Linked DNA regions of Homo sapiens. The protein of the gene in region 1 interacts with the protein of each later gene in a biochemical or structural test. Each region holds a gene or a part of one and is shown on either strand. Other genes may lie near its edges. The genes, in order: NANOG and PRKCE.

What was found.
Region 2: of the proteins of NANOG (region 1) and PRKCE, one has a biochemical effect on the other in vitro, tested with the Homo sapiens proteins (one study listed by BioGRID).

The regions. Positions count from the first base shown.
Region 1 is NC_000012.12:7,795,595-7,799,414, reverse strand, and holds the end of NANOG (homeobox protein NANOG), read right to left. Parts: 3' UTR 269-3,820; downstream 1-268. UniProt on the Homo sapiens protein: Transcription regulator involved in inner cell mass and embryonic stem (ES) cells proliferation and self-renewal. Imposes pluripotency on ES cells and prevents their differentiation towards extraembryonic endoderm and trophectoderm lineages.
Region 2 is NC_000002.12:46,148,110-46,151,929, forward strand, and holds part of PRKCE (protein kinase C epsilon type), read left to right. Parts: intron 1-2,931; coding exon 2,932-3,120; intron 3,121-3,820.

The DNA.
Region 1 (3,820 bases):
CTTGTCCTTAGCTCTTGTGACTACGCCAGTGTTATCAGAGGACATGTAAACACTGCTACCCTTTCTACTCCACATGCACCTTATCCTAAATGGATTAATGTATCCCATCTTTTTGCCTGTTTTGTTCCATGTATTTAATTGATTTAATACGATTCTAGCATCTTAATTTGATCTGTGAGCTTTTCTGTTTCTTAATAGTTTGCTTGGTAGTATCATCAGAGGTAGTGCTACCACTGCATTGAAGTAATTTCTCAGATGCTTAACCTTCTAAAATTCTCAAGCACACTTTATTCAAGGACCACAGAGTTTACACCAACTACCCAGAAGCCAGGAATAGCTTAAGGAGAGACTCACCACCAGCAGCTTCTTTTCAATCAAGTTTCACTTCAACCTCACACCCAGGAACCCATTCAAATTCCTACATTTCGGTATCCTTAGTCGAACTAACTTCCTGTGCCGGAAGCTTTTGTCTGTCCCAGTGACTTCTTTCTTTAACAAATTCCCTTCATCTCCCCCTTGAGTCAAAGCCCATGGGGGCCCCAGGAGGCATGCAATATTTACCAAGGGCTCTCCCCCACTTTCCTGCCTCTGTCTGGCAGTTGTTTGCCTTTACTTTTAGGTTTGTAGTCACAGCCTGTATTTTTTCCTGTAGACACACCAGGTTTTCTGAACGGTAGAATTACTCAGAGTAGAATTAACCTTGTCCTTCACCCCGAGAACTGAGCTTGAAATTCACTAATCAAGGCCTGTATTCCTCCCACTTCTGAGTTTTAAATTTATATTATGAAATTCGGAAAACCCAGGCAAATTCAATCCATGCTTCTCTCCTTCAGGTACAAACTGAAATGAAAATGAAAGCTGAGAAATCAAAATAATGAATTTTAAAAACTAAAATATGGTAAAGCTACTAAAATATAGCATTGGAAGTAACACACACCTCCTTTTGGGAAAAGAAAGGAAAATTTTCTAGAGAAAGGAAGAAATGTTAAACAGAGAGCCTTGTACTATCCTTTTTGCCTAATCTCCTATTATTTTTGTTTATTTTTGAGACAGTGACGCTCTGTCGCCCAGGCTGGAGTGGGGTGGCATTATCTGGGGTCACTGCAACCTCCCGGGTTCAAGTGATTATCCTGCCTCCGCCTTCCAAGTAGCTGAGATTACAGGCGCAAACCAAGACCTCTGGCAAATTTCTGTATTTTTAGTAGAGACAGGGTTTCGCCATATTGGCCATGCTAAACTTGAACTCCTGACCTCAGGTGATCCACCTGCCTTGGTCTCCCGAAGTGCTGGGATTACAGGTGTGAGCCACGGCACCTGGCCCACTAATCTTACTGCTTTTGACTGTAGTTATTATTGTTACTTTAAAGATTATTCCAAATAGATCTCTAAATTCTTACCTGCCAAGAGGTTGAAGATTAATACTGGGTGATTAAAAAAAAAAAAGTTCAGAAAACATAATACAGGGCTAGGCTGGTGACTCATGCCTGTAATCTCAGCACTTCGGGAGGCCAAGGCTGGTAGACTGCTTGAGCTCAGGAGTTTGAGACTAGCCAGGCCAACATGGGGAAACCCCGTCTCTCCTAAAAACACAAAAGTTAGCTGGCATGGTGGTGTGCACCTATAGTCTGGGCTATTTGAGAGACTCAGGCAGGAGGATTGCTTGAATCCGGGAAGTCGAGGCTACAGTGAGGTGAAATGGTGCCACTAAGCCCCAGTCTGAGCAGCAGAATAAGCCCGTCTTAAAAAAATAAAAAAGAAGGCTGGGCACTGTGGCTCATGCCTGTAATCCTAGCACTTTGGGAGACCGAGGAGGGTGGATTACCTGAGGTCAGGAGTTCGAGACCAGCCTGGTCAATACGGTGAAACCCCATCTCTACTAAATACAAAGAATTAGCTGGGCATAGTGGCAAATCCCTGTAATACCAGCCACTCGAAAGGCTGAGGCAAGAGAATCACTTGAACCTGGGAGGTGCAGGTTGCAGTGAGTAGAGATTGCATCATTGTGCTCCAGCCTGAGTAACAAAAGTGAAGTTCCATCTCAAAAAAAAAAAAAAAAATTGCCCAGACACGGTGGCTCACACCTATAATCCCACCACTTTGGGAGGCCGAGTCAGGTGGATCACCTGAGGTCAGGAGTTCGAGACCAGGCTGGCCAACATGGTGAAACCCCATCTCTACTAAAAATACCAAAAATTAGCCGGGTGTAATGTTGGGTGCCTGTAATCCCAGCTACTTAGGAGGCTGACGCAGGAGAATTGCTCGAACCCAGGAGGCGGAGGTTGCAGTGAGCCAAGATTGTGCCACTGCACTCCAGCCTGGGCAATAGAGAGAGACTGTCTAAAAAAACAAACGATAGGCCAGGCGCAGTGGCTCACGCCTGTAATCCCAACACTTTGGGAGGCCAAGGCTGGTGGATCATGAGGTCAGGAGTTCAAGACCAGCCTGGCCAACATAGTGAAACCCTGTCTCTACTAAAAATACAATTAGCTGGGCATGGTGGCTCACCCCTGTAGTCCCAGCTACTTGGGAGGCTGAGGCAGGAGAATCACTTGAACTCGGGAGGCGGAGGTTGCGGTGAGCCGAGATCGCTCCACTACACTCCAGCCTGGGCAACAGAGTAAGACTCCAGTCTTAAAAAAAAACAAAATAAAACAAAAAAAAAACACTTGGAATTAGACTGGATAGTCTTAGTAACATTGGACAATTGGGGAAATAATGAGAGAAAAGACTGGAAAAAACCACTCTGATAACCTGCATCATGCTGCTTCAGAGTGAAGGGACGTGCTCTCAGATCAGATACATTTAGGGCAGGCACAAGATGGGAAAAGGACAGTAAAGGATTATTAGTATAATTCACAGATGCCTGCGTAGCTGCTCTTAAGGTGAGAACATAAATCTGTTTCAACTAGCCTTAGAATTTACTTACATATAGGCCTCTGATGAAACTTTAAATGTTAGCATCAATTACAGATTCATACACGGAAATAACCCATTACATTTGTAGATGCACATGTACAATGCACGTAAGTGCCCTTTTTTCTAAAACTGGCATATTTATTATTCATTCATTCTAAAACTGGCATATTTATTTATTATTCATTTATTTACTTATTTATTTATTTATTTTTGAGATGGGAGTTTTGCTCTTGTCGCCCAAGCTGGAGTGCAGTGGTGTGATATTGGCTCACTACAACCTCCACCTACCAGGTTCAAGCGATTCTCCTGCCTCAGCCTCCCAAATAGCTGGGACTACAGGCATAGGCCACCACGCTCAGCTATTTCTATGCATTTCTAAGATAGCAGTGTCCTCAGCTAATTTCCTTCTCCACCCCAACCAAAAATTTAACAAAGATTTATGTTTAAGCTGTATATTTACTCATTGAAACACTCGGTGAAATCAGGGTAAAATCAACTAAAGGAAAAATAGTTGTTTCATTCATTTGAACTTAAACCAACTAAAGCAGTACTCATGTCATTACGATGCAGCAAATACGAGACCTCTTTCTACAAAGATTAGCACAACCAACAAATTAGGGGATATAGCAAAACAGAGCCAAAAACGGTAAGAAATCAATTAAGTATGTTACAGCTTAACCCTTTACCTCAATAGTTTTTAAAAAATAAGCAAAGCCTCCCAATCCCAAACAATACGAATACATCTTCATCACCAATTTGTACTTGTATTTCTTATTCTTGAGGTTAGATTCTAAACCCTAAAGATATCCAAACTAGTATTAGATCTACTTATCTATAGCCAGAGACGGCAGCCAAGGTTATTAAAATGTCTTTTCTAGGCAGGGCGCGGTGGCTCACGCCTGTA
Region 2 (3,820 bases), on another chromosome or scaffold:
ACATGATATGCCCCATGGCACCCCCTCTGCTTTCCCACTCCCAGCCCCTGCTTCCCAGGAAGTGGCCACCAGCCTTTGGTAATAGCATCATCAGGGCCAATGCCTTCTCCCTTCTCCCTTCTCCCGAGCTCTGACGCACTTGAGGGGTTGGCTCCAGGTGACTTCCCGTGACATGGAAGCCTTGCCCTTCTGCCCAGATCCACTGCCGACAGTTAATTAGGAAGCAGATAATTAGAGCCAAGCCTAAAAGGAATCTTACAAAAGATGCCACCCAAAATGAGAAGGCTGTGGAAGGGGCCTGGAGTGGGGTGGCAGGGCGGCTCTGTGGTTTCCACAGCACCATCCAGTCTCAGCACACACAAGCCACCTTCTCCCCACCCCCTGAAGGCACAGAACCCAGCTGCCTCCTTCCGAGAAGCTGGAGGGCAGCCACTGTAGCACCCAGTGTGCCCTGAGGCTAGAAGAGAAGGGAGCATGCCCAGTAGATACACACAGTGGCCATGCATGCTAGCCAGTCACAAGATGTTGACTGTCTCCTGGATGATAGAACAGGCTGGCCACAGCACTGGGCTCAGTAGCATGTTACAGCTCCTACCCTCTGGTACCTTATAGTTGCACTGGGGAGACCGCTGGCCATGAAAAAATAACTAACGACGTAGTGGTATGTGGAAAGTGAGAAAGTGCCTGCAACTCGTAGGAACAGGCAGGGGTCTTAAGTTGGGCGCTGTGTCTTTTGAGGTTGAGGGAGGAGTTGGCATTGGCTTTGGAGCATAGCAGAATCACTGGCTCCTCAGGACAGTGGAGCCCATAGCTTTGACCTTACAGCTCAAGGAACACTAACCACTGGGCTTAGACCAAAGGTATTAGCTAAACAGATTACCAGCCCCAAGTAATGTAGAGTTGGCTGCATTTTCTCAAATTCCTTTTCATTCCAAATTCAGAAGATTCTAAACTGTGAGTGTTTTAACTGTTTCTAAATGCTTCTTCTATCCAAATCTTTCTAGTTCATCCTAAGCAATTTGTAACCTCTAGAAGGGTATTTTGAGCAGACCACAGAAAGTCCAGATACTTGAATTCAGCCTCCTCTTCCCTGGCCACCATGAAATCTGAGAACTAAATTGGAGCCTTGTCCCCAGCCTGAGATATTATCTGCCCAAGGTGTCCCATGGGCTGGAATGACTAGGCATGAACTTTGCCTTTTTTTTTCAGGGTCCTCAAAGTGTTCCCCCTTGCAGGATATGCACTCCAACCTTGTTTCTCCTTCCCTTTTTAAAATTCTTTATAGAATTATGGACCTGGATAGGTCATCTCATCCACCCTCCTGTTTCTGGGCAGAGCCATGCCTAATCCCACTCTAATAAGAAGAGAAAATAATTGTGGAATGGGAATGTCACCTCATGATCTCTTCCTTGTAGAGTGGACAGCTCAGCATTTATTTTTCCTCTGAGCCAAACACATCATTGATCTGCTACATATTTATTTTATTTATATATGTTATATTTTAAAGGCATACTGTAAAATACAAAGCTCTATACAGCTGAAAGGTGATATTAAATTCTAGTCTTTTCTATTGGATGTCATCTCCATATATATATATATGTATTTTTATATATATGTATTTATATATATGTATTTATATATATATGTCATTGACATGCTACATATTTATATGTGCGTGTGTGTGTATCATGTATTTATGACATATGTGTATGGAGAGCAGATCAAATAGAATAGCCAATCAGAAAAGATCCTTTTTTTTTTTTTTGAGATAGGGTCTCACTCTGTTACCCAGGTTGAAGTGCAGTCGCATGATTATGACTCACTACAGCCTCAAACTCCCGGGCTCAAGTGATTTTTCCACCTCAGCCTTCTGAGAAGGTGAGACTACAGACACGTACCACCATGCCCAGCTAATTTTTTTTAAGAGACAGGGTCTTACCATGTTGCCCAGGCTGGTCTCGAAGTCCTGGACTCAAGTGATCCTCCCACCTCAGCCTCCCAAAGTGCTAGGATTACAGGTGTGAGCCATTGCGCCCAGCCAGAAAAGATGTCTTGTATTCAGTAGCATCATGTCATACATGCATTTAATCTAAGTGAATTTGACTCTACATATTTGGCTAGAGGAAAAAGAGAGACAGCATAGATAAGACAAGTGACCATTGTCAAAGACAAAATGCACCAGACAATCAAGGAGATGGTTCGATTCTGGCTATTGCAATAGGGGGTTCATTAGTGAAGGTGGCCCCAAAGGAAGGGGGCCTACGGTTTTGTAGAGGCAGGCAAAGTGGGGGATTCTTCAGTGGATCTTATGGGAATCATGATGAACAATAGAGATGGGTTTTTTCTTAGAATATGCAAGAGTATAGTGGTCCTTTATAGGGAGACCATTACAGGGTGGGGGAGACTTATTCATTGCAGTTTCCTCTCCAGGAGCACAGGGCTCAGGTAAATTGAGTGTTGCACCATTTAAAGAAGACCTCTGCTCACCTTTCCACTCAGGCAGTGAGCTGTGCCCTGGACTGTGTGAGATGGGAGACCTGACCTCGCTGCACTCTGAGTCACTTACAGCTTGTTCTCTCAGTATGCATCGTGCTCCCCTGACCCTGATTTTAGTGTCAAAATATGCAGTTTTTTAAAATGTGGCCCTCATGCCAGTCAGGAACTTTATCTGGTGCTCAAAGAAATAGGAATTTGTTCCCACTGGAAGACAGACTGTCGATGTTGACTTTGGAAAGATGATAGCTGGCCCCCAGCATAGTGCCTCCAAACTCAACTGTCACTGAATTTGCTGATTTAGAACTTCTAGGACTAGGACTCAACTGTAGGGAGGAGCAAGTTGGAATTGAAGTCCTTCCCATGGGCGTTCGTAGCACGGGTGTCACTGGGGTGGGAGCCTTTGATGGTGCCTGACATTGCTGGTTTCCTGAACAGATCCTGCAGGAGTTGGAGTATGGCCCCTCCGTGGACTGGTGGGCCCTGGGGGTGCTGATGTACGAGATGATGGCTGGACAGCCTCCCTTTGAGGCCGACAATGAGGACGACCTATTTGAGTCCATCCTCCATGACGACGTGCTGTACCCAGTCTGGCTCAGCAAGGAGGCTGTCAGCATCTTGAAAGCTGTGAGTCACTGCCCCTCACCCATGGCTGTGCTCTCCTGGGCTCCTCCCCCTACACACACACACACACACACACACACACACACACACACACACACTCCCTTCTCCCTTTCTCTGTCCAGCTTTCTCCCTCCCACCTCTGCTCATCACCACGGAATGGGAAGGATTAAGGGCAGTTGCCACTGGGAGTTCAGGCACAGTGCAGAGGACTGCTGCCAAGAGAATGGGGCCTGAGATGACTTGCTCTTCTGGTGGGAAGAGGAGCGCATGTCTGTGCTTCCTGAGATGAGGCACTGTGTACATCTGTGTCCTCCAGCATTTCAGAGGGAACAGAAGCAACTCAACTGTGCTGACATCACCTCTGCCACTTCCATACCTTCCTTACCTGTGGCCTGTCTTCATCAGGGACCTGTGATGGAGAACAGAGAGGAGGGGAGGGAGGGTGGGCACCGCCCACCTGTGTCCACGACAGCATCACTGTGGCTCAAGAGCCAATCAGAAAAGATCTGGTACACTGGAAATTCATGCAGTCCTGCTGGATTTAGATACATAATACAGAGACTGACCCTGCCCTAGGAATCATCCCTCACATGGGAAAACCCCTTATGCTTTCTCAGCACAGCCATCTCTACGATGTAACAATGCTTGTACTGTGTCAAGCAAGTGATGTTACCTGTCCCCTTTTGAAATCCGTGAAAGCTGA